4 separate regions of the Homo sapiens genome follow, and all the other regions are linked to region 2. The links come from fine-mapping of genetic effects on gene expression. A gene starts in region 2. Each other region holds a variant in brackets. All regions are shown on one strand. Distances are from middle to middle.

What was found. PIP is the estimated chance that this variant, and not a neighbour inherited with it, causes the effect.
Region 1: its variant is the best candidate, but not a certain one, in a credible set for the expression of PPP3CC in amygdala (GTEx, PIP 0.87).
Region 3: its variant is the best candidate, but not a certain one, in a credible set for the expression of PPP3CC in whole blood (TOPMed, PIP 0.71).
Region 4: its variant is the best candidate, but not a certain one, in a credible set for the expression of PPP3CC in whole blood (TOPMed, PIP 0.53).

Annotation. Positions count from the first base shown.
Region 1 is chr8:22,784,758-22,793,157 of GRCh38, forward strand. All of the region lies in intron 4 of PEBP4 (phosphatidylethanolamine binding protein 4), which reads right to left. Among named protein-coding and RNA genes, the nearest start is that of PEBP4-AS1, 89 kb to the right of the region's middle. RefSeq lists an enhancer at 229-914. The variant C/T (reference allele first, on the strand shown) is at 4,126.
Region 2 is chr8:22,437,174-22,443,845 of GRCh38, forward strand. It overlaps PPP3CC (protein phosphatase 3 catalytic subunit gamma), which reads left to right and starts at 3,905. Exons shown (of 14, transcript NM_005605.5): 1 at 3,905-4,285. The coding sequence starts at 4,237. RefSeq lists silencers at 3,488-3,677, 3,768-4,427.
Region 3 is chr8:22,483,490-22,491,889 of GRCh38, forward strand. All of the region lies in intron 3 of PPP3CC (protein phosphatase 3 catalytic subunit gamma), which reads left to right. The region is part of intron 1 of LOC124901905 (a long non-coding RNA gene); the gene reads right to left. Among named protein-coding and RNA genes, the nearest start is that of PPP3CC, 47 kb to the left of the region's middle. The variant G/A (reference allele first, on the strand shown) is at 3,997.
Region 4 is chr8:22,536,604-22,545,003 of GRCh38, forward strand. It overlaps PPP3CC (protein phosphatase 3 catalytic subunit gamma), which reads left to right. Exons shown (of 14, transcript NM_005605.5): 13 at 2,866-2,895; 14 at 4,012-4,522. The coding sequence ends at 4,199. The region is part of intron 1 of LOC124901905 (a long non-coding RNA gene); the gene reads right to left. It also overlaps a transcript of SORBS3 not described here. Among named protein-coding and RNA genes, the nearest start is that of SORBS3, 11 kb to the right of the region's middle. The variant A/G (reference allele first, on the strand shown) is at 4,039.

The DNA.
Region 1 (8,400 bases), 350 kb after region 2:
CATAAAGCAGATTCCTGCTGAGAAAATGACGGCAGCAAAAACTGATTCACTCGCCGCTTTGGGGAGAACTCCAGGCCTCCCTTCCTTCGAGGTTACATAACCCTCTGTCAACAGCGACATCAGGAGAAAGGCAGCGAGCCGGAGGGGGGACCGTCAGGAACGCTCTGGGATCCATCTGGGCGTCACCTTTTGCGGGTGCTGGGGACACTGCTTGCGTGAAGGAACAGAAACGGGCCACGTGTGCACGGTTTGCGCATGTGAGCTGTGTCCAGGCCTGCTCCTCAGATCCCAGTGTGTCTAGAACACTTTGCCGCCCACTCTGTCCCCACTTTTCCCAGGCCTAGATGCTGCTCCCGTGGCAGTGGGACGACAGGGCAGCTCAGCACAGACCCACGGGGGCCCGGCAACTTCTCTCTGCATTTCCGCAAATGAGGGGAAGCTAGGAGCAAGGTCAGCATGTGGTGCCCTGACAATTCTATTTTGGAGGAAAAAAGCCGTTGGCCCTCAGCTGTCTTCAACCAAGGATACTAGAACCGGAATCGAGAGCTGCTGTGTCCTCAGTTAAATTCCTGTCCTCCTGGGGCCACCTATGGGAATCTGGCCCAAGTGCCCCTCTGCATTTCCTGCCGAGTGCCCAGGACAGAACCACGGCCATTTCGAGACCCCAGATGTCCTCCAATGTGTCCTCTCGGAGACGCCCTATCTCTGGAATGGGGTAAGGCTCTAAAAGGCAAATTGAGGTCGGCGGTCTGGCTTGGGACAGATCCGCCATGTGCTCCCTGGCCACAGATCCTGCTCCTGCTCCCTGAGGGAGGAGGATTGAGACACAAGCCCAGAGAGGGAGGCAGGGGTGATCCAGGGTGTGAAGGAGTCAGATGGGCTCTGCCACCTGCTAGCAACATGGCCTGGGAAAGTTACAGATCCTCCCTGAGCCTGAGTCCTCATTCAAAACAGGAGCAACAGCGACCACTCCAGGTCCCCGGAGAGGCCACCTCAGTCTGGCATCGAGAAGCTTGTCAATGACTGTGAATAGAGGAGGAAAAGAGCAGACCGACAGGCAAACGTGGAGCTGCATTTTCTGGGCTTTGCTGCTCTTCCTCCTGGAGACAACGGGGCTACTCTAAAGAATGCAGGTTTAAAATCTCAGCTCTGCTCCTTACTACCTTCTGTACCCCTGGATAGGTGGATTCACTTCTTTGAACCACAGCTTTCTCGAACGTCAAGTAGGGTCAGTGCTTATTTCGCAGTGTTATAGTGGGAATAAAATAAGACAGTGCATGTTTAGAAAGTGCCCAGCATGGAGTAGAAACTGAATACATCCTGGCTGTCTTTCCCTTCCTCCTATCCCCTTCATCCGGCTTTTTGTCTCCCAGCAATAGAAACACTAAACCGTTTGTTCTGGAGGGGCTCTGGATTAGTGGTACTAAGGAAAGAACACTCTAATACATTATGTATTCTGGGGCTTGTGTTCCTTGGTTGGGACCTCTGGTAATAGGCTAGGTATATTTCTGTTTTTTTGTTTGTTTGTTTGTTTGTTTTTTAAGAGACAGGGTCTTGCTCTGCTTCCCAGGCTGGAGTACAGTGGTGTGACCATAGCTCACTGCAGCCTTGACCTCCTGGGTTCAAGCAATTCTCTGGCCTCAGCCTCCTGAATAGCTGGGACTACAGTTGCACGCCACCATGTCCGGCAATTTTTTTTAGTTTTTGAAGAGACGGGGGCCTTGCCATGTTGCCCAGGCTGGTCTCGAGCTCCTAGCCTCAAGCAATGCTCCCACCTCGGCCTCCCAAAGTGCTGAGATTACAGGCATGAGCCACCATGCCTGGCCCCTCTGGATTTTGAAACCCTGTCTATTAGTGGCTTTAAAAAAAAGTTGCTAGGGCAGCAGCTTGGGGGAGCAAAAAGGAAGCCATCTCTTTCTCCTCAGTCCTAACGTCATCAAATCTTCATCTGAGTGATCAAAGGTTGTTCATCAGAGCACACTTCATACAAAGCTCCATGCCAGGGAGTGAGGGATTGTCAATATCCAGGGAATCCTATGCAGGAAACAGGGCTGCACCCCCTACCGCTTTTTTTTTTTTTTGAGACAGGGTCTTGCTCTTTCACCCAGGCTGAAGTGCAGTGGTATCATCACGGCTCACTGCAGCATCAACCTCCAAGGCCCAAGTGATCCTCCCACTTCAGCCTCCTGAGTAGGTGGGACCACAGGTGTGTATCACCATTCCTGGCTTATTAAAAAATTTTTTTTGTAGAGACAGGGTCTCTCTGTGTTGCCCAGGCTGGTCTGGAACTCCTGGGCTCAAGCAATCTTCCTGCCTCGGCTTCCCAAGAGTGCTGGGATTACAGGCGTAAGCCACTGTGCCCAGCTAAGGGCTGGTCCCTTCTAATGGGGATTCTGATGTTTGGGCAGGAGAGGAGTCTGTAGGGGTGGGTTCCTCTAGGAACACTATCTTGGAGGGTGGTAGGATTTGCACAGGTGAGGAGAGGGGTCGTATTTTTCTAAAAGAATGAAATATAATGAGTGGAGTTGAAGAGTTGGGGTCTTCCTTTAGATACACCAGCCAGGTTAGCATAAAGAGTTTGTTCTGGAGAAGAGGTCAGAGGGCAAGAATTACACTGAGTCTTAAAATCTCAAACTGAGCTAGCCTTGAGAACGTTCCTTCCATAAGGTCTGGAAATTGGCAGAGGCGGGGGAGGGGGATACCAACATTTTGATGGGCGAGTTTTGTCCCATGGCACCCATACCCTCTCCTTGTAGTCAGAAATGACTTAGTACAGATTCTCAGTTGGCTGGTGATGGCAAAGAGAAAAGAGGAGTTATCCTCTAAGGCTAATACTTGCTCCTCTTTGCCACTGCTTACGCAGTCAACAAACACTTGTTGGGGGTAAGGCCAATTCAACATGGCCTCTACTCTCAAGTACTTGAGTCTGGTTGGGGATTCAGAGAAATAAACCACCACTACTACTCCTACGGCTACGACTATGAGTAATTGTGCGACGGTGCTAAGTTCCCTGATGGGGAATGTGGGAGTTTCCTAGGTGAGAGGGGGCTCAGTTCTGCCCCAAAGAAGCTGGGTCACAGGAGGGCCCTGTGAAGGGTGAAATGTTTCAGCTCAGCCTTAAAAGAAGATCTGGGCAGATGAAGGGGTCGAGGTGAGGGCTGGGGAAGGGAAGGGTTTACGTTTCGTTGATAACGCGTTGTGGATGGGCCTACAGAGCGTGCAGGGGGAGGCGTGCAACGGGCCCACAGGCTTGGAGCTCTGGCAGAGGAAAAGTGGGTGTGGCTGGAGGCTTCAGGGATGCACGGGCTCATCCTGGGAACATATGAAGGGAAGGGGGATGCTGGGAGAACCAGGAGCAGCAGGCAGGAAGCCAGGTAGAGGGAGGGAACCTGGGAAGGATGTTGAGAAGGACTGGCCAAAAGGGCAGGTGGCAGTGGGATCCAGGTAGCTGAAAGATGAAGGGGTTTCAAAATGGGAGAGGGCTTCTAACTATCACCGAGAAACCCCTGGGACAAGAACTGCATGTTTCCATCAGAAAGTGGCTGCCAGGGGGACAAAGAAGGAGCAGGGAAAGACGAATGAGAAGAGAAGAGGGAGAAATGGCAAGTGCAGCCTGCTCTTAGGCGGAAGCCGTGTGGCTATGAGGGCCCATGAGAGGTGACGCAGGGAGGGAAGGCCCTAGAAGCCCTGAGTTATGGCAGTGGGGACCGAGGTTGGCAGGCTGGGGCACAAGCAGGGTCCTGGCGGTGTTCAGAGTCTCACCCATACTGCGAGGAGTACCCAGGACAAATACCTACACGTGTCCCATCCTGGGCCTCGGTTTCCTCATCTGTAAACTGGAGAGGCTGGACCACAGCCTTGCTAGGTCTCTTTTCAACTCTAAAATATGACTGTCCTGATGGTTATTCATATGCTATGAATTCTAAATTGATACAAGGATTCTACATTGATAGAAATTCTAAATTCTGGATGGCATTTTAGTTAACATGTACCAAAAAGCCTTTGAATATGCAAAACCTTTGACCTCTGAGAATTTATTCTCAGAAAGTCACCACAGAGGTGAATGAAGAGTTGTGTATTCACAACTTTGTTCATTGTAGCGTTGGTGATAATATAAAAAAAAAG[C/T]AGATACAACCTAATGTCCAATAGTAGAGGATTGGCTGAGTAAATTATAGTACATCCATATGGTAAACTACTTCTGCACTAAAAATCATGGTTTAGAAGATTATGTGTTGACATGGGAAAATGTTAATGATATATTGCTAAGTAAGAAAGCAGGCTACATTGCAGAATGTACAGTATGATACATTCATTTTCAAAATTTTTGATTAGGACACAGACCAAATCTTTAATTAATGTCATTTTTTTTCTTTTCTTGGCAAGCAAGAAGAGTATTATCTAGAATATTGTAACTAAAAAATGAAACAGAAAGACAGTTATACACTAAGTGTGTTCACAGGAATTTTTAAGTCATTAGGATGGAGAGTAGGCTGTCAGTGAGTCAAGGAAGCGGAGAAATTCTGAAACTATAGAATTTTAGAAGCGGAAATCACCCCTAGAGATCGTCGGGCCCAACCTCGCTTTTTTTGAGACGAAGAAATTCAAGCTCCTAGGGAAGTCTAGACAGTGACTAGTCAGAGATGGGGGTGGGTGCCAGCCTGAAACTAGGGTCGTCCAACCTTCAGTTTATGCTGGTACGTTTGCCACCCCTCAGAGAGACCCCGCTGATACTTAAGAGGTGACTCTATTCCTAAGCCCCCTGAGGTGGGGCTGTGGGCTCCTCCCTTCCTCCCAGCCTCTGAAGACCTATGCAGCTCAAAGCTGCTCTAGGCCACAGGAAAGTACCTGGGCCCACTGCAGAGCTCTGGGGCAACGTCTGCAGCAGCATGGGGGTCCTTTGCGAGCTGATCCAGTGCCCCAAAGGGAAATCAGTCTCTGGGTGGCCCAGAGCTAGGCTTCACTGTCTTCTTAAGAAATGGATGCTCACCTTGTCAAACACTTTTGTGACAGACATGATTCTCCTTCCTCCAGAAAAAATTCCTCTCCGCCTCCCACTCTGCTAACCCTCCAATGCAAAGACAGCACTTCATTTTTACCGAGTTCAACATCTTCGGGGACAGGTGCAACGGGCAGATGCCCTGTAGTCCATGTTGATTTGGTAATTCTGTAGCACTCTTTCTGATGCAAGAGAGAGGGTGTTGGGCCTGGCCTTCCAGGATGGGGAGTCCAATGCCTCTTCTCTGGCCCCATGGCCCGCTGACCCCCATGGCCGCTCCGTCATCCCTCTCCTGGGCCACTGAATAGCCTGCTAGCAGATCTCCCTGCTCCTCCCCATCAACCCTCTCTAAGTCTCAGCACCAGAGCTGTGGTCTTTATTTCATATGCCTGTTAACTTCCTTTTGTCATCCTTCAACCATTGCATGGGCTGTTTGATGATTCTTTCCTTCCTTCCTTCCTTCATTCACTCATTTATTTATTCATCACATGTGCAGGCAGAGAGCTAGGTGCAGTTTTGCCCTCAAGGAGGTCACAGTCCAGAGTGGGGGCAGAGACCCTTAGAACCAATTATCCTCAGGCCATGTGGAAGCACCTCCTGAGGGGGTAGATACAGGGATTCAAGGGATGACGAGGGCCCTGATGGCTGAGGTAGACCAGGAAGCCTGCTTACATCGGTGGGATTTGAACCGTGCCTTGGCATACCGGTGGGGGAAGAGGGGCACGGAAGAGGAAGACATCCCAGACAAGGCCCCTAAGCATGGCAACAGCTTAGCAGGGGCAGAAAACACCAGGGATATCTCGGCCTTGCTGGGGCTGGTTGGGATGATGGGATCACGTGGGGTGGAGGGGGAAATAAAAGCTGGGCTGGGGCCTGACCTTGAAGGGTCTTGTGGCTACCTTTGAAGGCTCAGTGTTCTAGTTCCGAATTTGTACATTTTACAGGCTTCTGGAGAAATGAAGAGTTGGCTCCTTTCTCAGCAAACAGACGGGGTTTAATTGCTGTTACTGTCAGTGTAGTTGCAAATATCATATAAAAAGGGCTTTTTGGCTAATTGTTTTTAGAAGAAAAATTCAAGAACTATGTATAGATATTATGCATCCAGGGTACTTTAAAGATCAAACTGTTTATATTACCCTTAAATACAGTCTTTAGCAGGCGGCACTGGGCTCTGTGAGTAACTGGGACACACGATGACCCCCCAGGGCTTAAGATGCTGGAACAATATGACAGCAGTTACTTTATTTCTGAGGGGAGGTGGGGGTGGTCAGCCACTACCCTTTGATAGGCCAGAAGACCAGATGAATAGAGATCTAAGCTGGGTAATGTTGCTGCACCATTGCCCTAAAGGGCTGCCTCTTCACGCAGGCAACCAACCTCCCCACCCCAGACACACACAGAAAGAACTGGATTCCACGGGCTTCTGGGGGTGCAAGGGGAAGGGGCTGCCATATCTAGTGGGCTCCTGGAGAAGCTCGGGCTGAGGAGCAGAGAAGGGAGCAGCCTCAGAGCTTCTCATCTTGTCTCCGGTCCTGCAGTCTTCTTTCCTCACCCGCAAATGGTAGAGAGAGGAGTTTTGAGCCGTACAAATAAAGCAAATTCATATCTGCTCATTGCCATCCTGTCCTCATGCTCAACCCTCTCTCAAATTTTAATTTGGTAGCTTTTAGAAAGGCAAATTTATTTGTGACACCATCCAAATTCTATTTTATTGGAATCCTCTTCTCCAAGGGTGCGATCGACTACCGAGAAAGCTGTGGGCTTCTCCTTTTGATATTTTCCCAAGCTCTCTGTGCGTTCGCGCGTGCTTGTGTGTGCGCGCACACGCATGCACATTCATTTTAGGGTCCTCTACATATTTTACGTACAAACACATAATGCATATTCACAAGGCAGCCGCGGAAGTGTAGATATATTCATCACATATATGTGTAACTCAGTGCAGACTCCTAGAAGCCAATATTTAAGTTATCATATTTAATTTATTCAACAAACATTTAATAAGCACTTACTCTTCATTAAACACTGTCCTAGGCCCTGAGTGTACAGCAATAAACAAGTCAGACAAAGCCTGTGCACTAGGGGGCTAACATTTAAAAGCACTGGATTCTTTTTTTTTTTTAGACAGGGTCTCAATCTGTCTCCCAGGCTGGACTGCAGTGGTGTGATCATGGCTCACTGCAGCCTTGAACTCCTAGACTCAAGTGATCCTCCTGCCTCAGCCTCTAGAGTAGCTGGGACTACAGGCACACACCACCACGCCTGGCTAAGAACTTTTTTTTTTTTGTAGAGACAGGGTCTCACTATGTTGCCCAGGCTGGTCTGGAATTCCTGAGCTCAAGGGATCCACCTGCCCCAGCCTCCCAAAGTGCTGGGATTACAGGGATAAGCCACAGCACCCAACTTGGATTTTTAGTACAAGGTTTCCAAACACATGTGAGGGAATCTGTGTGGACAGTCACAGAGGGAGCTGGCTAGGTCAATAGATCAGCACTCCCTTAATCCAGGAGAGACAGCCATTTGGGTGCAATATTCCAAACAAAGGTGGCATTAGGGTTCCCTGCTGCAGGTGACATCTCAGGGCTGCAGGGCCTTACCCCATAGAACACTTCCCGGTGCTTCTAAGGTGGAGATGAAAGAGCTGGAGACAAGGGTTGGTGGGCCCCCTGCTTTGTGGCCTTAGATCTTTACCCTACAGTGGTATCGGTCCGTGTCCTTGGTCATATCCTTTCTATGATTCCAGGTGATTTTCAATGCCTTCCTCTTCCATAGAGCCTTTCCTGCTCATCCCAGTCATAACCAAAGATGCCCTCTTGTGAGCTCATCCTACCTTCTGTGTGATTCACCCAGTGCTTCACACACGCTGCCTTATTTTGATAGGTAGCAAATTTCGTTCTAAGTATACGTTGCTCTTTCAAAGAACACTCGTGGAATTTCTACTGATGTGGAAAGGAAGGACCCTGGCCCTGCCCATGGGAGCTGTTGGCCCAGTAGGGAGACCAGCAAGCTAATCTGTAATTGCAAGCAGAGAGCCAGGTATATGTCAGAGGTGTGTACAGGGTGCCATGGGGCATTGCGGTGGGTGGTAGGGAGCAGGTGGCTCTCAGCAGAAGTGAAGCTCAAATGCTCCCGAAAGAAACCACAGACTCCTTGGAGTGGGACCCTTACCTAATTCTTTTTATATTCCCCACCATGATTGTAATAATCAAATTATCTTGCCCAGCAATTTTTAAGTACAATTTTAAAATTGGATTACAAAATTATATATATTATAGAAAATTTGGAAAAACAGCTAAGCCCAAAGAATATAAAAATCACTCATAATCGTACTACCCAGACTTAACTATTATCAACATTTTGGTACATACACTTTCCAGTTTCTTTTCTCCATGCAATGAAAATGA
Region 2 (6,672 bases):
AAATAAAATGAACCTCATTTAATGTGTTCCTATAGTTCAGTCTGTTCTCACAGCAAGCTCTGGAGCCTGAGTTGTACCACAAAGATATTCTTACCTTGAGGCAAACTTAGTCTGACCTGGAGGCCCTGATAGCCATTGCCCCTAGGACTGGGGGAGGGATGGTCATAACTCCTTAGGGGAAGGGGCGCCCATTCAACCTAAGGCAATTCTCTGGAGAAGGGGCAGCAATGAACTGTCAGCCACCAGCCCTCAAGAAACAGGCAGAGTACGGTAGCTCATGCCTATAATCCCAGTACTTTGAGAGGCCGATGCAGGAGGATCACTTGAGCCCAGCAGTTCAAGGCTTCAGTGAGCTATGATGGCACCACTTCACTCCAGCCTGGGCAACAGAGCAAGACCTCATCTCTCTCTTAGAACAAAAACAAAAACAAAAACAAAAACAGCAGCAACCAGAAGATGGTTATCCCTCATGGTGAAGGGGATCTGGGCAGGGCATCCCCGCCTCTGCTACAGGGAGGGCCTATTAATATTATCATCCCCATATTACAAAAGAGGAAAGCAAGGCCTGAGAAGTGAAGGAACTTACCCATGCCCACAGCTGGAAGTGATGGTATCAAGGTCTGTTGGGTGTCACTGGCTGTTGCTGGAAGACTAAGCAGCTATTGAAACAGAGGACCAGCAAGGAACTTGGAGAAAGGCAGAGCTACTGAGTGAATCTCCTTAGAAAGGGGTGGGGAAGGCCGAGGCGGGCAGATCACGAGGTCAGGAAATCGAGACCACCCTGGCCAACATGGTGAAACCCCATCTCTACTAAAAATACTAAAAATACAAAAAAATTAGCTGGGTGTGGTGGCATGCGACTGTAGTCCCAGCTACTTGGGAGGCTGAGGAAGGAGAATCACTTGAACCCAGGAGGTGGAGTTTGCAGTGAGCTGAGATCACGCCACTGCTCTCCAGCCTGGTGACAGAGCGAGACTCCGTCTCAAAAAAAAAAAAAAAAAAAAGTGGGGGTGGGGACACGAAGGGACAGGGCTGCAAGTTGCTCACAATTACTTTGCTAAAGCCAAGCTACAGAATGACATCTGGATTCTGTAAATTCATGTATACCATGCTTGAGGACTCATGCCGCATATTCCACGTGGTGCTATAGAAAAAGTTCGTGGTGCTATAGAAAAAGTTCAGGTACTGCACGTCTCTTGACGATGATGGTGTTCACTAAGCCTCCTACCAGCTCTGTGACTTTGGGCAAGTTTCTTCACATCTCTGTGCCTCAGTTTCCTTATCTGTAAAATGGGGATAATCATATAAATGGGGTTGGTGTGAGGATTGAACGAGTTAGTATTTGTGGGGTTTTTTGGTTTTGTGTTTGAGATAGATGGAGTCTGTCTCTGTGCCCAGGCTGGAATGCGGTGGCACCATCTTGGCTCTCTGCAACCTCCGCCTCCCGGGTTCGAGCGATTCTCCTGCCTCAGCGTCCCGAGTAGCTGGGACTACAGGCGTCCACCACCACGCCCAGCTAATTTTTGTATTTTTAGCAGAGATGAGTTTTTGCCACGTTGGCCAGGCTGGTCTCAAACTCGTGACCTCAGGTGATTCGCCCACCTCAGCCTTCCAAAGTGCTGGGATTACAGGCATTAGCCACTGTGCCCGGCCTGCAACGTTTTCTTTTTCTTTTTTTCTTTTTGGAGACAGTCTCGCTCTGTCACCCAGGCTGGAGTGCCGGGGCGTAATCTTGGCTCACTGGAACCTCCGCCTCCCGGATTCAAGCGATTCTCCTCCCTCAGCCTCTCGAGTAGCTGGGATTACAGGCATGTGCCACCACGCTAGGCTAATTTTTGTATTTTTAGTAGAGACGGGGTTTCACCACGTTGGCCAGGCTGTTTTCAAACCCCTGACTTCAGGTGATCCGCCTGCCTTGGCCTCCCAAAGTGCTGGGATTACAGGCGTGAGCCACCTTGCCCGGCCCGCAATGTTTTTTCTTTCTTTCCTTCTTTCTTTCTTTATTTTATTTTTTTTTTGAGACGGAGTCTCGCTCTATTGCCCAGGCTGGAGTGGTGCAGTGGCGCGATCTCGGCTCACTGCAAGCTCCGCCTCCCGGGTTCACGCCATTCTCCTGCCTTAGTCTTCCAAGTAGCTAGGACTACAGGCGCCTGCCACCACGCCCGGCTAATTTTTTGTATTTTTAGTAGAGACGGGGTTGCACCGTGTTAGCCAGGATGGCCTCGATCTCCTGACCTCGTGATCCACCCACCTCGGCCTCCCAAAGTGCTGGGATTACAGGCGTGAGCCACCCCACCCGGTCTTTTTTTTTTTCTTTTTTGCCGGCCCGCAATGTTTTCTTAAACTTTTTATTTTTAGCTATCCTGTTGAGGTTCTTCCAGATGAATTTTAGCCTCTGACCCAGGGGTATGATTTGATAGGCGTGGAGTTCTGGTTACTTCTTAAATGAAGAGTTTCCCCAGGATATCTGAACAATTCTCTTGGGTGGAAGACTCAAGGATCATGAAAACGAAAACCAAATTCTAGTCGGCTCCTAAAGTCCTTTTGCCTCCTGCGGTTACCATCAAAGAGCTATGGTCAAAATTCCAAGGGATAATTCAGGGTCTGATTCCACTATATATCCCCAGACCGCCTATACATAAATCCATATTATTGGAGATTTACGCTTAATCCTATAATCTTTTACCTAACAGCTGTCCAGTAGAATTTTCTGGATGTCCAATAAGGTAGCCGCGTGTAGCTCTTGAACACTTGAAATGTGGCTAGTCCCCTAGAGGAACGGGATTAATTTAAATTTACATAGCTACAACTACTTATCGGTCACTGCGGTAATTGTTAAGACTGGTTTTGCCTGTAACTTGCATATGTTTTATTGGACATCAGTTTCAATATTTCATTTGCATTGCTAAAAGTCAAAATCCTTTTGACTTTGCCAGTTACTCAGTGAGAGGACAGTTGGAGCCAGTTTCTGTTCTAGGCTTACAGTTTTAAGGACAGATAAAGGTTAGTTTTTAACCTCGAGATGAACAGACTGTTAAGTTTCTACGGACTTGCCCATGGGGTTCCACAGTGAGCCTGGGCCGGGGAGGCAGGTACTGTGTCAGGGGGAAGAAAAAAGGGGCTTCTAGCTGGGCAGGTGACACACAGGGCATAGGAAGAGGTCAGTTCTTGTGGCCGAGGAGGTCCGGCCCGGGGGTCCCAGGAGCAGAGATCTCCCTTCTCTTCGATGTGGAAAGTGAGGAGGGAGCAGAGCCTTGCTCAGAAACGGAGCTCCCCCAATCCCCCACCGCCCTAGCTACTGGACTGGAACTAGGATGGACACGAATGTCCTTCTCATTGTACTAACTGCACTCAACAAGCGGGAAAGATGAAGCGAGGGGGTTTAAATGTGTGCGTTTGTTGAATGACCCACAAAAACTGAAGGAGCGCGGCCGGACTGATCACACTCCTTGAGACAAAGCGGGTGGGAGACCCAGAGGTGAGGAGGGTGGTCGCCTGTGGGCGAGGACTGGGAGGCCAGGGGTTCTCGGCGAGGCGGTCCCAGGAGGCGGCGCGGAGCCGCTGCGAGGCCGCAGGGCCGGGTCGCAAGATGGCCGGGCCGGCCTCCCGCGCGGGTCGCGCGGGCCACGCGGGCGGGTTTCAGATGTTCCGGGCCCGGGTAGGGGCTGGCAGGAGAGAAGGGGCCGGCTGCGGGGAGGGCTGGCTGAGAAGAAGCGAAAATGGGCGGTTAGCAGCAGGGACCCGGAGCCGGAGGAGCCGAGAGCAGCGCGTGCGCCGAGCTCTACTGCCTCGCGGGAAGGCGGAAGGGTGGGGAGGGCGGCGCTCGGGGCGGGAGGCCCGGCCGGGTCCGCTAGGACAGCGGGGCCGCTGGGAAGTTGTGAGAGCGGCGCTCGGGGGCGCGCTTGCGTGCACGAGGGCCCGGGCCGCGAGCAGCCGCGGCCGTCCCGGTCGCCACCCTTAGCAGCGGTCGCGGTCGGTGCCGAAGCGGTGTTCCCCGCCTTAGCCGCTGGCGCCTCCCAAGAGAGCGGCCGGTGGGCCCTCGTCCTGTCAGTGGCGTCGGAGGCCGGCGCTGCGGTGGCCGCGCCCTTCTGGTGCTCGGACACCGCTGAGGAGCCGGGGCCGGGCACGGCTGGCTGACGGCTCCGGGCAGCTAAGGCTGCCCGAGGAGAAGGCGGCGGCCGCGGCGTAGGCGCACGTCCGGCGGGCTCCTGGAGCCTGGAGGAGGCCGAGGGGACCATGTCCGGGAGGCGCTTCCACCTCTCCACCACCGACCGCGTCATCAAAGGTGCCTGGCGGGCCGGGCCTTCCTCTGGGACCCGCGGGAAACGGCCTTCGGCTGGGCGGCGGCTCGGGGCGGAGGGAGGCTGGGGCCGGGCTGCGCCCACCCTAGGAGGGCTCGGAGGGGTGTAGACAGAGCCGGGCGGCAGCCTCCGAGAGCAGCCACCCGGACCCGGCGTTTTCTGCTGCACCTGGTCAGGTGCCTGGCCGTCAGTGCCAAGTTCCCTCCCGAAGGGTTCAGGGTGCAGTGGGGACTTCTTCTCCCACCGCCCCGAAGGGCCCGGATCCCTGTCTTTTTTTCTCTTTAAGAAACGACTCGGGGGAAGCCATCGGGGGTGGTGTGAGCAGGGAGTCGACTCTTCCAAGTAAGATATTTAAGATTAGATCTTTCTTGACGTCCGCCCCCCACCCTTTTTTAGGACGTATACCATGTGCCTTTTGACCCGCTTTCTCTAGATCATTGCAAGTCACTGCTATTACTGGAATAAACTTAGTATGAACAAGTCAGATAAATCCATTATATGATGTTTAAAATAAGTTTACGGAGCTCTTGACAGGGTAATGGTATTTTATTTTCCCTTTGGTTATAAAGACTTGGAGAATGACGTTTTCTGATTCATATGTGTACCTGCGTTAGATTTCTGTTGTTGTTATAAGAACAAAATGTAAAGGGCTCTTTGCTCTCTAAATCTTGTAGAGTTTTAGGTTATAGTTGTTTCTCCCTTTAAACTAAGAAGATGGATTACACATAACCACTAATTTATGTGCTGCTTTTATTCAGCCGTAAGTCTTAGGCACAACCCTTCTCTCTGAGATTAACAATCGGTTTGAAAGCGCTATTTTGTAAGAAGGGAATAGACTTAGACCAGCTGTGTTAGTGGCCTCTGGATGCAGGGGTTAGCGTGACAGTGGGGAAAATTATTAAGATACTTTTCTTCTTTTTCATTTTGGTATTAGAAGGAGAAAGGCAACTAATACTAGTGACGGGAATACATTTTTAAAAGGTGAAACGCCTTATTGCATGTTCAGGGAGGGGGAAGAATTTTAGTGTATAACTTAGGTTTCCCCCCTCTCTCCCCAAATCAGCCTCATAAATGTTAATTATCTGTACTACATAATTATAATGGGATTTTTGAGATTTATCTGCTTAGCATTTGTATGCTATCGTTAGAGGTTTAACTGAATTGTTCATCTAACTGACATTATCCCCTGAACAGCTAAATTATTGTGACCATTTAAATGTGTCTTCATATTATTAGTGTATAGCCTATAAGAAGTATATAGCCCTCTCTTAAGATTCAGAGTGTACTTAACATAACCTTTTTTGAGGAATCAAGGTCATTATGTACATTAATTTCTGTACTGTGCTGTTAATATGGCCGGTGCGTTCTGCTGTATAAAGTTGTTAGCAGTTTCGTCCTGTACTAAAATGACTTCGCAATGCTATACCAGTTCAGTGTTTTGTTTGCTTTTAGTTTCTCTCTCCAGTACTGTTTTCTGTCAAAATATGCCCTTAACTGCTTTCTAATCTGCTACGTCTTAGCTGAAGTAGGCAGGGAAACCAGATAAGCCAGAACTGTGGGTCAAGTCAGAATAAATAGGATCTTAGTGAAGCTTAGTGCAGCCCTCAGGAATCTCACAATCAAATCACCATTGTGCCATGTAATTTCCACCATAACATGCCATAAGATCAAAAGAAGATTAAAAATCTTAAATGACCCTTAAATATAGTAATAAATATTGTAAAATAAAATGTAATAAAATAAAAAAGTTAAAATGCAGGGGCTAGGGGCAGGCATGGTGGCTCACGCCTGTAACCCCAGCACTTTGGAAGGCCCATATAGGCAGATCACTGAGGTCAGGAGTTCGAAACCAGCCTGGCCAACATGGCGAAACTCCATCTCTACTAAACATACAAAAATTAGCTGGGCATGGTGGCGGGCACTGTAATCCCAGCTACTTGGGAGTCTGAGGCACGAGAATTGCTTGAACCCGGGAGGCGGAGGTTGCAGTGAGCCAAAATGGTGCCACTGCATTCCAGTCTGGGCAACAGAGTGAAACTCTCTCTAAAAAAAAAAAAAAAAAAAAAGCAGGGGCTGGTTTATTGCTACGCATGCTTATTATTAAATAAACACTGTCATCATATCCTGCAGGATGCAAATTTGTTCTTTACCAAAATTAATTACCGAATATTGTGTACTTTTAAGACTGCTCTTAAATAAATGAAATAGAAATAATTTCAGGTCCTTAGAATGTATGGATTTCTCTCCTATATAAAAACTTCGGCATAAGAGCTTGACCACAGCATTTGTGGCTTCATGATGACTTATGGTGCTTTTTTCAGGGTTTTCCAGAGTTTGAAATAGTTGAAGAAAATGAGGTGTCACGTGTGCA
Region 3 (8,400 bases), 47 kb after region 2:
GTTAGCCAGGATGGTCACGATCTCCTGACCTTGTGATCTGCCTGCCTGGGCCTCCCAAAGTGCTGGGATTATAGGTGTGAGCCACTGCGCCCAGTCCCATATGTCATTTTATTTTAATTATAGCCAGCTTGATCACATACAAAATTCCATTTATAAATTCCGTTTTCACAAACCCTATTACAATTTCACTCAGACCATTAATGACATGCTTGGACTTTCTGCTTTGTCCTGTATTTCCTTTCTTAAATAACCATTTTATTTTAGGATGAAAATTTGCCACATAAGATTCTTTGTCATACAAAATTATTCTATTTCTCAATAAAGGACACATTTTAATGCCTATCTTGTAATTAAAAAAAATTTTTTTAAGAGACAGAGTCTTGCTCTGTCACCCAGACTGGAGTGCAGTGGTGCAATCATAGCTCACTATAACCCTGAACTCCTGGGCTCAAGCAGTCCTCCTGCCTCAGCCACCCCAATTAGCTAGGACTACAGGTGTGTGCTACCACACTTGGCTAATTTTTTTTTTTTTAATTTTTTTAGAGTTGGGTCTCACTGTGTTGTTCAGGCTGGCCTTGAACTTCTGGCCTCAGGATACCCTCCAACCTCAGCCTCCCAAAGTGCTAGGATTACAGGCATGTGCTACCACAGCCAGCTTGTATCAACAATTTTAAAAACAATTAATTTATCAAAGATTTACTTAAGTCACAAGAACTGAAAAAACATTTGGGTTAATTACTACATATTTTATATGAGCACTTGTTTACTTAAACTAATCAGAATAAATTTTTTTAGGGATTTCTGGCTGACTATATGAGATTTTATTATGTAGACACAGCATACAACATAGTATATATATATAATATAAGCATATCTACACAGATATACATACTTATAAATAAATTCTTATGGCTTTTGTTTTAGAGTTTTGGTCATGAAATAGTAAAACACTCACCAATTTATAAAAAACAGTAGGATCCAGATTATCTTTCTGACAAAATGGAATAAGGCCAAACTTAATGTTCTTTTTTAAAACAGGCAATATTATAAGGGTTGTGAACTAAATTTTGAGTAAAGTAGTTTGAGTCAGTTACCAATAAACTGGATTCGACACAGAATAGTTAATTGTGGAAATATGACTGAATTATCTTCTAACAAGGTCTGTTCAGTATTTTATTGGTCTCAATTCTTTATCCTTGAAGATAAAAGTGTTGCCATTCCTTTTACTGTGGGCAGGCTATCTTTACATGGGAATTTCATTTTTGCAAAGGAAAGAGCATGAAGGTCAAAATGATTTTCTTTAATATCTGCTGGTTTTAAGTGTTTTACTTAAATGGTCAGTATGCCAGAATAGTTGAAGAGTTTTGAAGAAAGAGTTTAGAAAAAGATAAGAGGAGGCAGAGCGGGAGGGGAAAGCTCTAGAGAGGAAAGTGATTCAGCTAGCTTTGAGGCAGTGTTTTGTAGTGAGTCATTCTTTGAGTCCTGAATCCTTTTTTTTAGCCTCAAAATATCAATGAGATACGCATATCTTATTTGGAGTATATTATTTTCTAACTGTGGTCTTTTAGTTTAAGGAACAACAGACTGTTTGAATGATCCTTACGATGTTTGAACATGTTACCGGCTGGAATCCCAGAAAATATCTTGGCATGCCTTTGAATTTTGAGAGCCCATTTTATTGTGGGTGCTCTGGTTTAATCCCAAATACACAAAAACCAATTAAATATAAGCACTGAATTTGCAAAGGCCAAATAAACGCAAGCACAGATGGGAAAATAAAGTACCCACTTACCAAGAAGGACGATAAGAAGCCTTCTCCAACTGAAAGAAAAAAGAGAGATCCCAAGGCCTCAACCCAAAGGGAAAAATCCCTTCCCTGAGACCCCACAGCCAGGGTCTACAAGGAGGAAAAGAGTCTTCCTTAATAGGAGATCCCTCAGCCAGATCAGACGGGAAGGGGAAAGACACCATCCCATCCAAATCCCAGATAAAACAGAACTCAACCAAAATCGGGAGTTCAGTCCAAGAATGACTCACTAAGGGAAAAAGAGGCAACTTGCAGAAGCCGTTAGAGGAGGGGGTGACTTTCAGAGGTCCCCAGTGTGGCTACCTTGTACTATAGTTCCAATGGCTGCTGATCTTCTCTGAGATGAGTCAGCCTTAGACTCATACTTGACCAAGTATGTCAAAGTCAAATGAAACACAGAGATGAATCTCTGAAATTAAGATGTTTTATTTGTGAAGAAAGAATTGCAATTTAGAGCATGCATGCAGACAGAATGGTATGTCCGAAGAACAAAGAGAAGGTTAGAGGTTTTATGAAAAAGCGAAATGTTATGTGTTGCTCTTTGAGAAAGTTCATTGGCACTAGTAAGGTTCTGGAGAGCTTGCCAGTTTTGATTGGTGAGTGATGGCAGTGGGTAAAATTAGCCTTAGAATTTCAGCAGATCATTTCAGTAGCCATTAGATAAAACTGGTTTCCAGTAATAGCAGGCAGTTTCGGCAGACATGCTTGCAGAGAATTACATTTTTGGGTCAATGTTATATGTCCTGAGTGCTTCCCCCCCGCCCTCTTGACTCTGTTTTAGTTGGGTATGACAGGAATAACCCAGTTCATATGATCAACTTTCACAGTAGTTAATGATATAAATACCTTAATTTATTTCACCATTCCTCTACTGTTGGAAAAATAGGTTTATAGCAGGTCATGCTATTGCATACATTTTCCCTCTGTCTTCCTTACAAACAATATCTCTATTTTATTCAGATAGATGGGATTGGGGTTGCAGGGAGAAGCTTTGATCTCAGGGAAGGAAGGCCCTTATCCCAGCCCCAGGGAATGAATTCTGGGTGGTCTGAACTACTCAAGCCAATCAATTTCCTGTCACTAATGATTGGTCTAGGGGTAAACACTGGATTTTCTTTTAACCAGTAATATATAAAGGGAACTCTGCTGGGTTTTTGTTTGTTTGTTTGCTTTTGGAAACACTCTTTCTTGATGAAAAGACTATTGCAAGGTTGAAGCTTTTGGACCCCCATTCTACCATTTCACTTCATATGTGGATGTGTGTACTGTAGCAGCCATGCTGTGACTATGAGGAGGTGACATGACTAAGGAGGAAAAGCAGACCTGTGAATCGCTGATCACAGAGGTACAGAGGGCTTGGTTTCTTGGTGAAGATGTTGAACTAGTACACCAAACCTGGACATCTCATCTCCAGACTTGATGTGTTTTTTGTTTTGTTTTTTTTTTTTTTTGGGACGGAGTCTCACTCTGTTGCCCAGGCTGGAGTACAGTGGCACCATCTCGGCTCACTGCAGCCTCTGCCTCCCAGGTTTAAGTGATCCTCCTGCCTCACCCTCCCGAGTAGCTGGGATTACAGGCACCCACCACCACGCCTGGCTAATTTTTGTATTTTTAGTAGAGATGGGGTTTCACCATGTTGGCCAGGCTAGTCTCAAACTCCTGACCTCAGGAGATCTGCCTGCCTCAGCCACCCAAAGTGCTGGGATTACAGGCATGAGCCACCGCGCCCAGCCCAGACTTTGTGTTTTATGAGGTATTTAAATATCTTACACAACAGCAAATTGGATTTGATATCACTTGTATTTAAATGGTACAAAGTTGTCTTCCAATTATTTCCACTCTGCACATTGCTAAAGTTAACATCTTTTTGAATATATCTGTGATGGCATTTCAGATACTTAGATCAGATTCTCACACATGAAGTAACTGATCAAAGAGTAGAACATTTTTAAGACTTCTGCCGCTGATAAAACAAAATAGTAAAGTTTTATTTATCTTTGAGACTTTTGGTGTTCCCTCTTCATTTGTACCTATTACAAAATGCTGGCTGGGCGCCCTGGCTCACACCGGTAATCCTAGCACTTTGGGAGGCCAAGGAGGGTGGGTCACCTGAGGTCAGGAGTTCGAGACCAGCCTGGATGACATGGTAAAACCCTGTCTCTACTAAAAATACAACAAATTAACCAGGC[G/A]TGGTGGCGTGTGCTTGTAGTCCCAGCCACTCAGGAGGCTGAGGCAGGAGAATTGTGTGAACCCTGGTGGCAGAGGTTGCAGTGAGCCTAGATTATGCCACTGCATTCTGGCCTAGGTGACTGAGTGAGACTCTGTCTAAAGAGAAAAAAAAAATAAAAACAAAGTGCTTCCTCTTCCTCTGTGAGAGAAGAAGCTAAATTTTAGTTTCTTTAATTGATTTTGTGAGAAAAGAAAAGATTAAAGGGAACATTTTCAGCAAAGATATACTGTATTAAAAGCACAGAAGCTGCCAAAGAGAAAAATGTTATCAGATGAGCAGGTGATATAAATGTTATTAGATGACCAATTGATGAACAGGTATTGACACATAGAAATGATTCTGGAGGCAGAGTAAAAATTCTGTTCACACAGAAGTAAAAAGTAATTGAGTGGTTGAACAGATCTCTTGATAATCATGACCTTGTAATTGAATTATACAAGACAATTGTACAGTTGCATCCTGATGTATAAAATAAGGAAATAAAACTTGAAATTAGAGGCCAAGAAGCACATCACCAAATGACATTATACTATGGGTGGATTGTGCCTTTATATATCTCGTTACCTCAAAAAGGTGAGTTAGAAGGCACAAATGTATACCCAGATAAATCAAAAGATATATTGTGTTCTTGGTTGGGAAAGGTAGGTATAGAAAAGAGAAGTGCATTCTAAATTTGTATATTGATTTAATATAATTTTTCCTTGGAATATTTTGTGAAAATTGTTATCTTGGTAATGAAATTTAACCCCTCAAAAGAATAAAGCCACACAAGGTTATTTATATGTGTCTACATGTTTAAGCTTTATGATTATTTTGCAATGCCTGTTTCAAAATGTGTATATGCTTTAATGCAACAATTCCATTTTTCAGAACCTATGCTTTAGATGCACTCATAATTACGTACAATGATGTTTGAATTGTTTGTCACAATGATTGAAAGTTTCTTTTGGCATTTGATAAACAGGCTTCAGGGATACAAAATACCCTGCAATGTGTAGGAGACACCTAAACAACAAAGAATGAATGATTCTCAGATTGTCAACAGTGCCTGTGTTAGATTCTGGGGATCTAACAGGGAGATGCACAAGCAAAGTCCTTTACTGTATTTTCTAGTGAGAGGGACAGCATCATGTATTTGTTTACCATCCATGAGAACCAAATCAGAGGAAGGAGCTAAAGCGGGACAGGAGCAGCTAACTTAGATGGAGTGATCAGGGCAGGTTCTTTTGAAGAGGCAATTGTTGAACAGAATGACCTGTGGGAACAAGCTGTGCATAGATCAGGGGAACTACATTCCAGGCAGAGGCACAACCAGTGTAAAAGCTTACAGGCAGAAGCAAGTCTAGGGCAGTCCATGTATAGTAGTGAGGCTATCGAGGCTAGACAGAATAATGAGTAAGGGAGAGATGGAAGAGGTGCAGAGAGTGGGGCAGATAGATGATGTCAGGCCTAGTAAACCATGTCAGTGCATTTGGGTTTTATTCTGAATGTGCTAGGAAGTTATTGGAGGAATTTTTTTTTTTTGAGCAGGGGAGTGACGTATTCACATTTATGTTTTAAAACAATTACTTTGGCTGTTAGAAGGTCAGTTGACTTTTGGAGCCCAAAAGCAGGTGCAGGGAGACCAGTGAGGATTTAATCTAGTAATATAGGTAAGAGATGTCAGTAATTAGATTAGGCATACTGAGAAACATTTGGATTCAGGATTTCAAAGTCTTTCCTTTTTGAGGAGGTGGGAAAGTCTCAGTTGAATTGATCGAGCTCCTCAGGTCATGGCACATTTCTCATCAGTCTTTGCAAAGTCCCTCTTTTTTGTTTTATTCTTTTTGTGCTTATCTGTGATCTCTGAGTTCCTTACTCCCTCTCCCCAGTATACACATGCTTCTACTGTATTTAATATATGATTCAGAATACATCTAATGTATATATGAATGAATGATTCTCAGATTGTCAACAGTGCCTGTGTTAGATTCTAGGGATCTAACATGGAGATGCACAAGCAAAGTCCTTTACTGTATTTTCTAGTGAGAGGTACAGCATATATATATATAACAAATATATATTATATATAATAGTGTATATAATATATAATATATAATAAGTATATATTACATATAATATACAATAAGTATATATTATATATAAGTATATATTATATATAAGTATATATTATATATTATATATAAGTATATATTATATATTATATATATAATAAGTATATATTATATATAAGTATATATTTTATATTATATATATAGTAAGTATATATTATATACATACATAACAAATAAATATATATATATTCACTAATTTGAGATGGAGTCTTGCTCTGTCTCCCAGGCTGGAGTGCAGTGGCACGATCTCAGCTCACTGCAACCTCTGCCTCCCAGGTTCAAGCAATTCTCCTGCCTCAGCCTCTCCAGTAACTGGGATTAGAGGCGCATGCTACCACGCCCAGCAATTTTTTTTTGTATTTTTAGTAGAGACGAGGTTTCACCATGTTAGCCAGGGTGGTCTGGATCTCCTGACCTCGTGATCTACCCACCTTGGCCTCCCAAAGTGCTGGGATTATAGGCGTGAGCTGCCGTGCTGAGCCAATACATCTAATATATTAATTTTTTAATGTATAGAGCTTTTACAGATAAAATATTTTAATTTTACATAAATGATATGGTGCTGTCCAGTGGTCTTGAAATGTTAACATACACCATTATTACCTGGAAAGCTTGTGCAAACAGAGGTTGCAGGACCCTGACCCTGTTTCTGACTCATCAGGCGTGGGGTGGAACCTGGCAATCTGTATTCTGTCGGGTTCCCAGGTGATGCTGTTTACCACACTTTGAGATGAATGTGACCATACTTTGAGAACCACTGTTGTAGTGCTATTTATACTGTTGACTTTTTTCACTTACCACTTTTTTTATATTTATATATATTTTATTATACTTTAAGTTCTAGTGTACATGTGCACAACGTGCAGGTTTGTTACATATGTATACATGTGCCATGTTGGTGTGCTGCACCCATTAACTCGTCATTTACATTAGGTATATCTCCTAATGCTATGCCTCCCCCCTCCCCCCACCCCACAACAGGCCCCAGAGTGTGATGTTCCCCTTCCTGTGTCCAAGTGTTCTCATTGTTCAATTCCCACCTATGAGTGAGAACATGCGGTGGTTGGTTTTTTTGTCCTTGCGATAGTTTGCTGAGAATGATGGTTTCCAGCTTCATCCATGTCCCTACAAAGGACATGAACTCATTATTTTTTATGGCTATGTAGTATTCCATGGTGTATATGTGCCACATTTTCTTAATCCAGTCTATCATTGATGGACATTTGGATTGGTTCCAAGTCTTTGCTATTGCGAATAGTGCCGCAATAAACATATGTGTGCATGTGTCTTTATAGCAGCATGACTTATAATCCTTTGGGTATATATCCAGTAATGGGATAAGATATATCCAGGTTACTACTATACGTGCCTCTAGTTGATTGCTTTCTGCCTGCTGTATAGAATTTCACAGTATTTATGTATGACACTTTAGTTTTCTCTTTTGCTTGGTGGACACCTAGTTTACCTCCAGTTTCTTTCTAACATGAACACTGCTATGATGAACACCCTCATATAAATCTACCATGATTTAATGTCTCTAGGTTTTATGAACAAAATCGGATTGCCAGGAGAAAGGGTGTATGCATTCATACTTGAACTGAGCATTGGTTGCCAGATGGCTCTTCAGAATGGCTGTGCAAGTCTCTATTCCTACCAGCAGCACTGAAGAATTCCTATTTCCTCACATCCCTCCTTCCAGAATATGATTTTATCTCATATTATAATACTTGCCAATATAATGGGTATAAAGTAGTATTCTACTGTTTTAATTAATGTTTCTCTAATTACTGATGAAATTAAGCATCTCATATGCCAGCCATTCAGCTCTTGCACTCACTCTTAGGAGTTTCTTATGTGACCTTTCAGAGATAGGTTAAACATATACAAGCATATTTGCAAATCTAATGAGAAAATAGTGTACTTGTCACTATACATTGCCCTTTAAGTGCTGCTTTATCTGAGTCCCACAGATTTGGACATGTATTGCTTTCATTATCATTCAGTATTTTATATTTTAAGAATTCTCTTTAACCCTAAAATAATGAAGTAGTATGTTTTTTCTTTCCAGTCATATGGGATTTTTTTAGAGCTAGTATTTTGTTACTGATTATTGATTTGATGTAATTTGATTAAAGAAAATGATTGGAATAATACTCATTCTTTGAAATTTATTGAGACTCCTTGTGGTATAGTACAGAGTAGATTTTTGTGATTTTCCCATATATTCTTGGAAAGAACGTATATTCTCT
Region 4 (8,400 bases), 100 kb after region 2:
AGTTGATAGAAATCTTCAGTAATGTGTGAGAACAAAGGTAAAGTTGGAGCCAACTTTTTAGAGTTTCTTATTCTTATTGATTCACAGGAAGTGAGTTTATTTTGTTATTTTCACATTGGAGTCTCAGTTCCACCAGCTCATTGGCTAACTGGAGCATTAACTAAAAAAGACCTTTTATTGTTCATATAACTTAACTTGGAGAGCTTTCAACCAACAGTATCCCATATGGCCATGTAACATACATTCATGTATGTCTCACCTTGATCTAAGAGGGATTGGCGTGAGTTACAGTATACATGAAACATAGTGGAGTAAAATAAATATGCTTGGAAATTGAAGCACAAAGGTAAATAAAAATAAAGCCAATAGCCACAAATTTGACTCTAAGCATCCCAGTAGCCAAAATAGTGGGGAAAGCCAAGGACAGGACAAGATTCACAAAGACCATCAGATTAAAACAGATCAGTTATAAATTGGACTACATCAAAATTAAAAACTCTGTACTGCAAATGGTACTATCAAGAAAATGAAAAGACATCCCACAGAATGGTTGAAAATGTTTTCAAATCATATATCTCCTAAGAGATTGGTATCTAGAAAATATACTCTTACAACTGAATAAGAAGACAACCCAGTTAAAAATGGGTAAAGAATTGAATTGACATTTTTCCCATGAAGACATACAAATGGCACATGAAATGATGTTTGACATCATTAGACATTCAGAAAATGCTAATCAAAACCACAATGGGATACCACTTCACAGTCAGTAGGATGGCTGTGAAAAGACAGCAGTTAATAAGAAGTGTTGATGAGAATGTGGAGAAATTGGGACCTTCTTAACACTGCTGGTGGAAATGTAAAATGGTACAGCTGCTTTGGAAAACATTCTGACAGGTCTTCAAATGATTAAACATAGAATTGACTTATTACTCAGCAATTCCAGTCATAGCTACATACCCCACAAAGAAATGAAAATATGTCCTCGCAAAAACTTGTACACAAATGTTCATAAATGGCATTCAACATAATAGCCAAAAAGCAGAAAAAAGCAATTGTCCATAAACTGGATAAACAAAATGTGGTAAACGCAATGGAATACTATTCAGCCATAAAAAGGAATTAAATGCAGGTATACATGTCAACATGACTGAACCTTGAAAACATTATGCTAAGTGAAAGAAGTCAGTCACTACAGACCACATATTATATGATGCCACTCATTTGAAATGTCCAGAACAGACCAATCTAGAGAGAAAGTAGATTCGTGTTCAACCAGGATTAAGGGGAAGAGGTGAGGGAAGGAAATGGGAAGTGAGTGCTAATAAGTGGGGGATTTCTCATTGGGGCAATGAAAATATTCTAAGCACAGATTGTGGTGATGGTTGCACAGCTCTACTATATTAAAACCATTGACTTGTATACTTTAAACAAGTGAGTTTTGTGGTATATGAATTCTATTTCAGTTAAGATGTTAAAAAGGAAAACAAAAGTTCGGGTCATTTGATATGACTGTTTCTTATAATGGCCCTTACTGCAGGCTGCTATCTTTATACCCAATGTGAATAGCAATTCTGGGAGGGCCCCAAACAAGGTAATATCATACACATTTTACCGTGTAGCTTTTAAGCTCTAATTAGACCAACACTCAGTGTAGAGTTTCAGCAATGCTTTGTTCTCCCACTTCCTAACAGTTACATCAGTGATGTGCTGTGAGAAGGCACTGTAGCTTTCTTGTCAAGGGTATTTGTTCTACTTAAGGAGATTAGAGAGGGTGTGACAGTGATTTAATACATGCCTGCCTATGGTTGACAAATGAAAGCACTTCATAAGTAGATTTCAGTTATCCATTTTTCACATTCCATTAGGTAGTTAATGTAGTTCTTTCAGTTTCTCTTCTCATATTGATATATAAAGCCTTGGGAATAGCAGCAAACTGTTACTGCTCATTATTCTTCACTGCCTTCTTTTGGCAAATTGGTACTGGAGTAACTGACAGGGTTCTCCTAATAGGATCTTTCTTGTGGCACCCTGTACCTTTTCATATATTAGCGTTTTTACTGTCTGAGAAAGGAGATGCAAGGAAGTTTACCTGTTGGTACTAATTTTTAAGTTGCTTCCTTTTCCATTGCTAAGAAAGAAGAGGGCTTTCTTAGTTACTGGCCAACTCTCTTGAACACTGTATGGAAGCCATATGGATTGGAAACATTAGCCTCTGCTATATTTTTATAGCAGATGGGTACACACATTTGCATTAGGAATTCAATAGTTCTATGCTTTTGTTAGCTTTGTACTCCACTCCTGGACAAGAAATAACCCTTCACATGGAACCTATTTTTCTCTCCTTCCAAATGCCAGTCTGCTGTTCAAAGGCCACTCTTTTTTTTTTAAATGAAGTAATTAATAGGGCAGTTGGACTCCAAATAAGTCACTTGAGAGCAGTAAGATGTAGTTGTAAATAAGCTTTTTGAATAGGACCCAGCAGTAGCTCATTTAATATCACCTGAGATATTTTACAAACTAAGGATTGTTGTGATGTCAAACTATTTGATTCTACATGTTGTTTCGATACGTGGATATCAAGATATAAAGTAGCAGTTGGCTACCTAAAATGAAAAGAGCAATGTTCCATGGCACCTGAAATGTTAAAAATATTAGAAACTCTCCCCCACCCCATATTCCTCCCACCCCAATTGAGTCTCTCGCAATAATCTTCTCGCTTCTCTAACTAGTTGACTTTCATTATGGATGGGGATAGGCTAAAAAACGGGCCCCTGGGATGGCTGTGCTGCCATCAGTGCTGTTGGTTTACTCACTCTTTTTCTGTCTTCGTTTTTGCATGCTACTGCTCCTGCCCTCTTACAGCCACAGTAGAAGCGGTAGAGGCCCGGGAAGGTATGGCCATATTACTCTGATAGATGTGATCCATGTGTCTGTGTACTGGTTTTTCGAAGCTTTATCAACATTTCAAATATTTTATTATTGCATCACCAGAACTATAACAGTGAGAAAAGGTATAGTTGTTTCTAGGCATGTTAACGAAGCAGGTGTTTCCTTTGTGTCCTATCTTTGCATTAATTTTAAATAACCTTCACCACAGCTACAGTTTTTTTTCTGGGCTCTATCAGCTTTAATGCAACGGCAGAAGCTTAAGCAACTGGTCATGAGAGGTCAAGTGGTTTACTTCTGTATCCCTTCCATGTACAAGAGACATCCATTTGATTCTCAAGAGAGCCAAATAGGTCAGCCTCTTCAGCGATTCTAAAAGATTTCAAGAGCAGAGGCAGAAGTAGACTGGAATTTAGTTCAATTCATTTCTGAGGTTGCCCTAAGGTAGGCAAGTTAAATTAACTTTGTTTCTATGAAAACCATTGGAACTGATAAACTTGTATTATACTTGTAATTGTTTTATTAGGTAAGATGGTTCAAAACGCGAATGCCTTAACTTGGTGTTATAAAAGTTGAATCGGAAGGAAAATATGTAGAAGCTATTTTTAAGTTTTTAACTTATGTACAGCTCCTGGTTGTGCAAGATAGAAAGCTGTCCTAAACGAAAAGATTAGCTCTTTTGTTACTTTTTTTTGTGGTCTATGTGGCCTTTGTGCGAAAAGCAACTACCCTGGGTTTAACTTGTTCAATTATTCTAGTGTTGCCTTTGTTCTAGCATTGAGTATGTTTCTGGTGCATAAGACACTCTTTCTTAAAGGTACTGGGGCCCAGTAAGTACTTGTTAGCTTTTTGTTAGGTATATGTCTACCATGATTATGCATATAGAGCTTTTATGAAAATTACTTTCACAATTTCAGCTGCCCTTTGGGCTTTAAGGAAGCAGTAGCTGCAGCCAAGACTGATTCAGTCAGACATTGCCCATGACTTTCACTAGACGTGTGCTCCATAGCCACCTTTCTGTGTGTTTCTCTAGGAGGTTGCTGTGTGCTAAGAAACTTTTTTTAAGCCTGTTGCTTTGCTGCCTAATTGAGCTCTCTCCACCTGCTTCCTGTTTTTCTGTAGCCATCAGAGGGTTCTCGCTTCAGCACA[A/G]GATCCGGAGTTTTGAAGAAGCGCGAGGTCTGGACCGAATTAATGAGCGAATGCCACCCCGAAAGGATAGCATACACGCTGGTGGGCCAATGAAATCTGTAACCTCAGCACACTCACATGCTGCGCACAGGAGCGACCAAGGGAAGAAAGCCCATTCATGACTTAGAGTCCTGCCGTGGCTCAGGTGGATCTAAAACTCAAGAACAAATTCTATTTATTTATTATTGGAAAATGAAAAGCAACTCAAAACAACTTCAACGTGGAGGTGCATTTATAATTCAGTCTGCATTTATTCTGTAAAAAGGTGGCTGTTTTATAAATTCTTTTAATTTATGTTCAATATATATAAAAAGTGCATCTGTTTTGTTTTTCCCTTTTTTCTCCATAATTTTAAGAAATGAATCTGATTGTTGTCAACACATTTGTGAAGTCTTGTGCTATAAAGGGGAACTTCCCCTAATAAAAGGGCCTTGGAAACCTCAAACCTGGGTTTCTGACTTGAACTAGTCAGTCTTCATTATTGTTTTTTGGAAGGTAATGTCTTTCATGTAAGACTAATAACGTTTCAAATGCAAGAAGATTTTTTTCCTTTTCATTTTTTTCCTTTTCTGCTGGGTGCCATTGAAGAAAGTCCTCTTAGATTTCAGTGGCTAAAAGTGCTTCCCTTTTGATGGGAAACTGGATCATAGTAGAACTTCAAAGTGAATAACCCAAATCCAGTGATTTTAAGGGCGAAGGGAAATGTTTTCTATAATAACCTACTTTCTCTGGACTCTCAGTTCGTTTAAATATGTTCTAGTAAACAAAATAAAAAATAATAAGGGATGTTCTTAGATTTACTTAAAATCTGTTCATCTGACCATGGGCATGATTGGTTTAAATTTCCTTAGGACTTTGGAGGAGAAAGATTTTCAGAAAGCTTTCACAATTGCCAGATTATTTTACTTTCATTTTTGAACCCCAGGTGACTTCTGTAAAGGAAGTCACTTTCTAAATATTTGATAAATGCCCTCAGCAGCACCTTCTACAACAAGATGTATATATGCCCTTCTAGGCTGTTGGCATCAGCTCTCGCATGTGCCTTCCCATCATCCTTCTGTTGTTCCCTGTCAGTATTACTGAAACCAGCTGGGGTAGTAGAAACTGACAAGAGTTCAATGGTCCCCTTGTGAATTGAAGGTCTTGCTAAAGAACATTGGATAAGTGAGGATTTCCTGTCTTCTATATCAGTTACTCTTTAGGTTGAATGGTATTTCAGCCTTCATTAGCATATTTTGGAATGCGAAAAGCAAGTGTTCAGATGTAGTGTGTGAATTATCTTCCCTTAGTTTGATTTTCAAGTCACAACCAACTAGTGAAGGAAATTTTGGGGCTACTTAGGCTCCCATTTTAACTAGCCTCATCGCAGGAGCCGTGTCATAATAGTCATTGGTCAGCTCTGCAGTGAATGTACATGCCTGGGAACATTACATCAGAGCATGGAACGTGCACATTTATGGCATTCCTTAGTGTCATTTGTGATGCGGCAGTCTAGCACTAAAGCAAGTATTTCAGACAGTAATACTTCATATTGGGAGTTTCCAGGAAACCAGAAAAACAAAGAACAACATAATTTTGGTGGTGTTTTTTTTTTTCCCCAAAAAACCATACTTCTCATTAGAAGAATGAAGACTTAGCCCATCTATCTCTGTTTTCCTATACCTTTTTTTCTAACAGTTTCTGATTTGTTTATGGCAGAAATCAAGGCACTCTTAGGGAATGGAATCTGCCTGCATAGATTGCTCCATTAATAAAAAGATAGGAAGGAGATAAAGGATCTCTGAATGGGTTGTGAGTAAAACCTGTGAAAGAAGGGGGGAAAAGTCTCTAGTAACTGTCTTTTCCTGATTGTTGTTGAACTCAAATCGGGTATTAAGCACCTAGATATCCTTATGCTCCTTTCTTTTCCAATCCCAGGATTAGAAAAGATCCTGTCTTTGGAAATTTCACTGATGAAAGTCATTCCATGTGACAGACTGCAGAGCTGCTAGTACCTTATCCCTTTTCTCCTTTTCATTAAGGCTGTTACATATATACAATCCACAGGTAGAAACCACTCTTAGGGGCCTCCATAAGCAGGCAGTAGTAGAAATAGTTACTGTAAATCCTTATAAGCAAAAAATAATATTTTATTACGGATGATTATTTAGGAATGGCTTCACTATTGTCTCAAAAAGCAGAATGATAAAGCAAGTTTCCTTGACAGAACCATCACAAAATTATATACAGTATTTCACTGGTTCCCTCTGAGCTGTGGAGGAATCAGCCAGAGTAGAGAGGTAGGTGGTCCTGGTTCAAGAAAACCTGAGTAAGTTTTAGAGCAGCACTAACTCTTAGAGGAGGTTAAGTTTGAAAATTCGGTTGAATTCTAAAGATAAAGTTATCCCTTCCGTTCTGTAGCTGTTTTAATGTAAACAACAACTTCCAAGATGGCTGGACCCTGCCCTGGGTTTGCTCGAAGACTACTTTTCCTGTCTAGGGCCATGATTAAACAGACATTTTAATTGCTGTCAAAGTTCTGCAGTTTTGGTGTTTTCAAAGTCTCTTCTGTTTTATTGAATGTTTCCCCCTGTGTGTGCTAAAGATACTGGAAACAGTTACATTGTGTTTTCCTTCACAGGACCTTCCTTGTGGAAGGCCCACAGGGACCTTCTTTTTCTGCAACTTCTCCCATTTAGGAAAACAAAAACAAAACAATTCCTCAGGCATGTCAGGACTCCTTTGTAAACTTTTCTGAAATGCCATTTTGAAAATGATGCTTCACATGGACCAGGTTTCTCACTTTTAGTGACATACATATCACAGGACATTTAAATCGATCAGATGATTATTTCTTTTACAAATTTGAAAACTCATCTAATGTAAGTTCAAAACATATATCCTTTTTTTATTTCCGTGTTCTGAATGTTTAGAGCAAAAGCAAAACAATAAGCCAAGGGGGTGTGTGTGTGTGTGTGTGTGTGTGTGTGTGTGTGTGTGTTTCTTTAATAGAATGATAAAACAAAAATAGCCTCCGTTTTCCTTAAACTCTCAAGGTGACACTTTGGTTACAAGTAGAGGCATTGCTGATTTGCTGGTCTTTTGTGACTGGATATTGATTGGCAAGGTAAGAATTGCTTATCACACTCTGATGAGCTTGATACTGCTCCTTGCCTAGGAGTAAAAGACTCAGCCTCTCCAGGAACATCAGTATTTTTTATGTCTTTCATTGCCTTTTTTGGTTCTTCCATGAACAATTCAATGAAGCAAGTTTCTCTCAATAGCAAAGATTTGCCTTCTTAAGATTAGCTTTCTTTGCCATCCTGATAACTTAGGGATGATTTCCTGACATTGTTCAAAATAGGAACAGAGAAACCCTTATTTGTTTTGTCAATAGACTATTATTGAATGTCATTAAGGAGCAAGGGAAGATTTTTAAAAATTGGATAATTTCGGGGCCTTTTTTGCCTTTTGGCATTGTCCCTTAGATCCTCTTCCCTCTGAGTGCTTTAAAAACACACGGTTTGAGGCACAGCTGATCTCTATAGGAAAAATATTATAAGCCATGCCTGCATGAGACACAGCTGGACTTGCTGTTCATGGTCATTATTCAGGAGTCTCTCCAGCCTCAGAATGAGTAAAGCTAAAATCTGCTCCCTCTACCCTGCCCTATTTTATGTAAATATGGTAGCTGATCTCCAAAATTTTCAACTGTACCATATCTATAAAGTTTAACCTTTTAAGAATTTTCATCCAAGCTGGGCGCGGTGGCTCGCACCTGTAATCCCAGCACTTTGGGAGGCTGAGGCCGGTGGATCACAACGTCAGGAGATCGAGACCATCCTGGCCAACATGGTGAAAGCCCATCTCTACTAAAAATAACAAAAATTAGCTGGGTGTGGTGGCACATGCGTGTAATCCCAGCTACTGGGGAGGCTGAGGCAGGAGAATTGCTTGAACCAGGGAGTTGGAGGTTGCAGTGAGCCGAGATTGCGCCACTGCAGTCCGCAGTCCGGCCTGGGCGACAGAGCGAGACTCCGTCTCAAAAAAAAAAAAAAAAAAAAAAAAGAATTTTCATCCTGACCAATCTGGGTGACCAATCAATTAAATTGGTTTAGGAAGAGCTTGCCCTAGATTGGTTGATTTCATAATTTTTCTTTTTATTAATTATTGGGTTTTTCTCTCTGATCTCTGCATTGAAAATTATTTCCTAAGCCATAAAGACTTGTTGAGGTACCATTCTAGAATCCCCAATATTTATTCTAGTTGTTATAGTAACAGTGGAACCCAAGTTTCTCCTAAAGCATTACCCAGCTTTCCTTGCCCAGGCAGAAAAGATGGCAG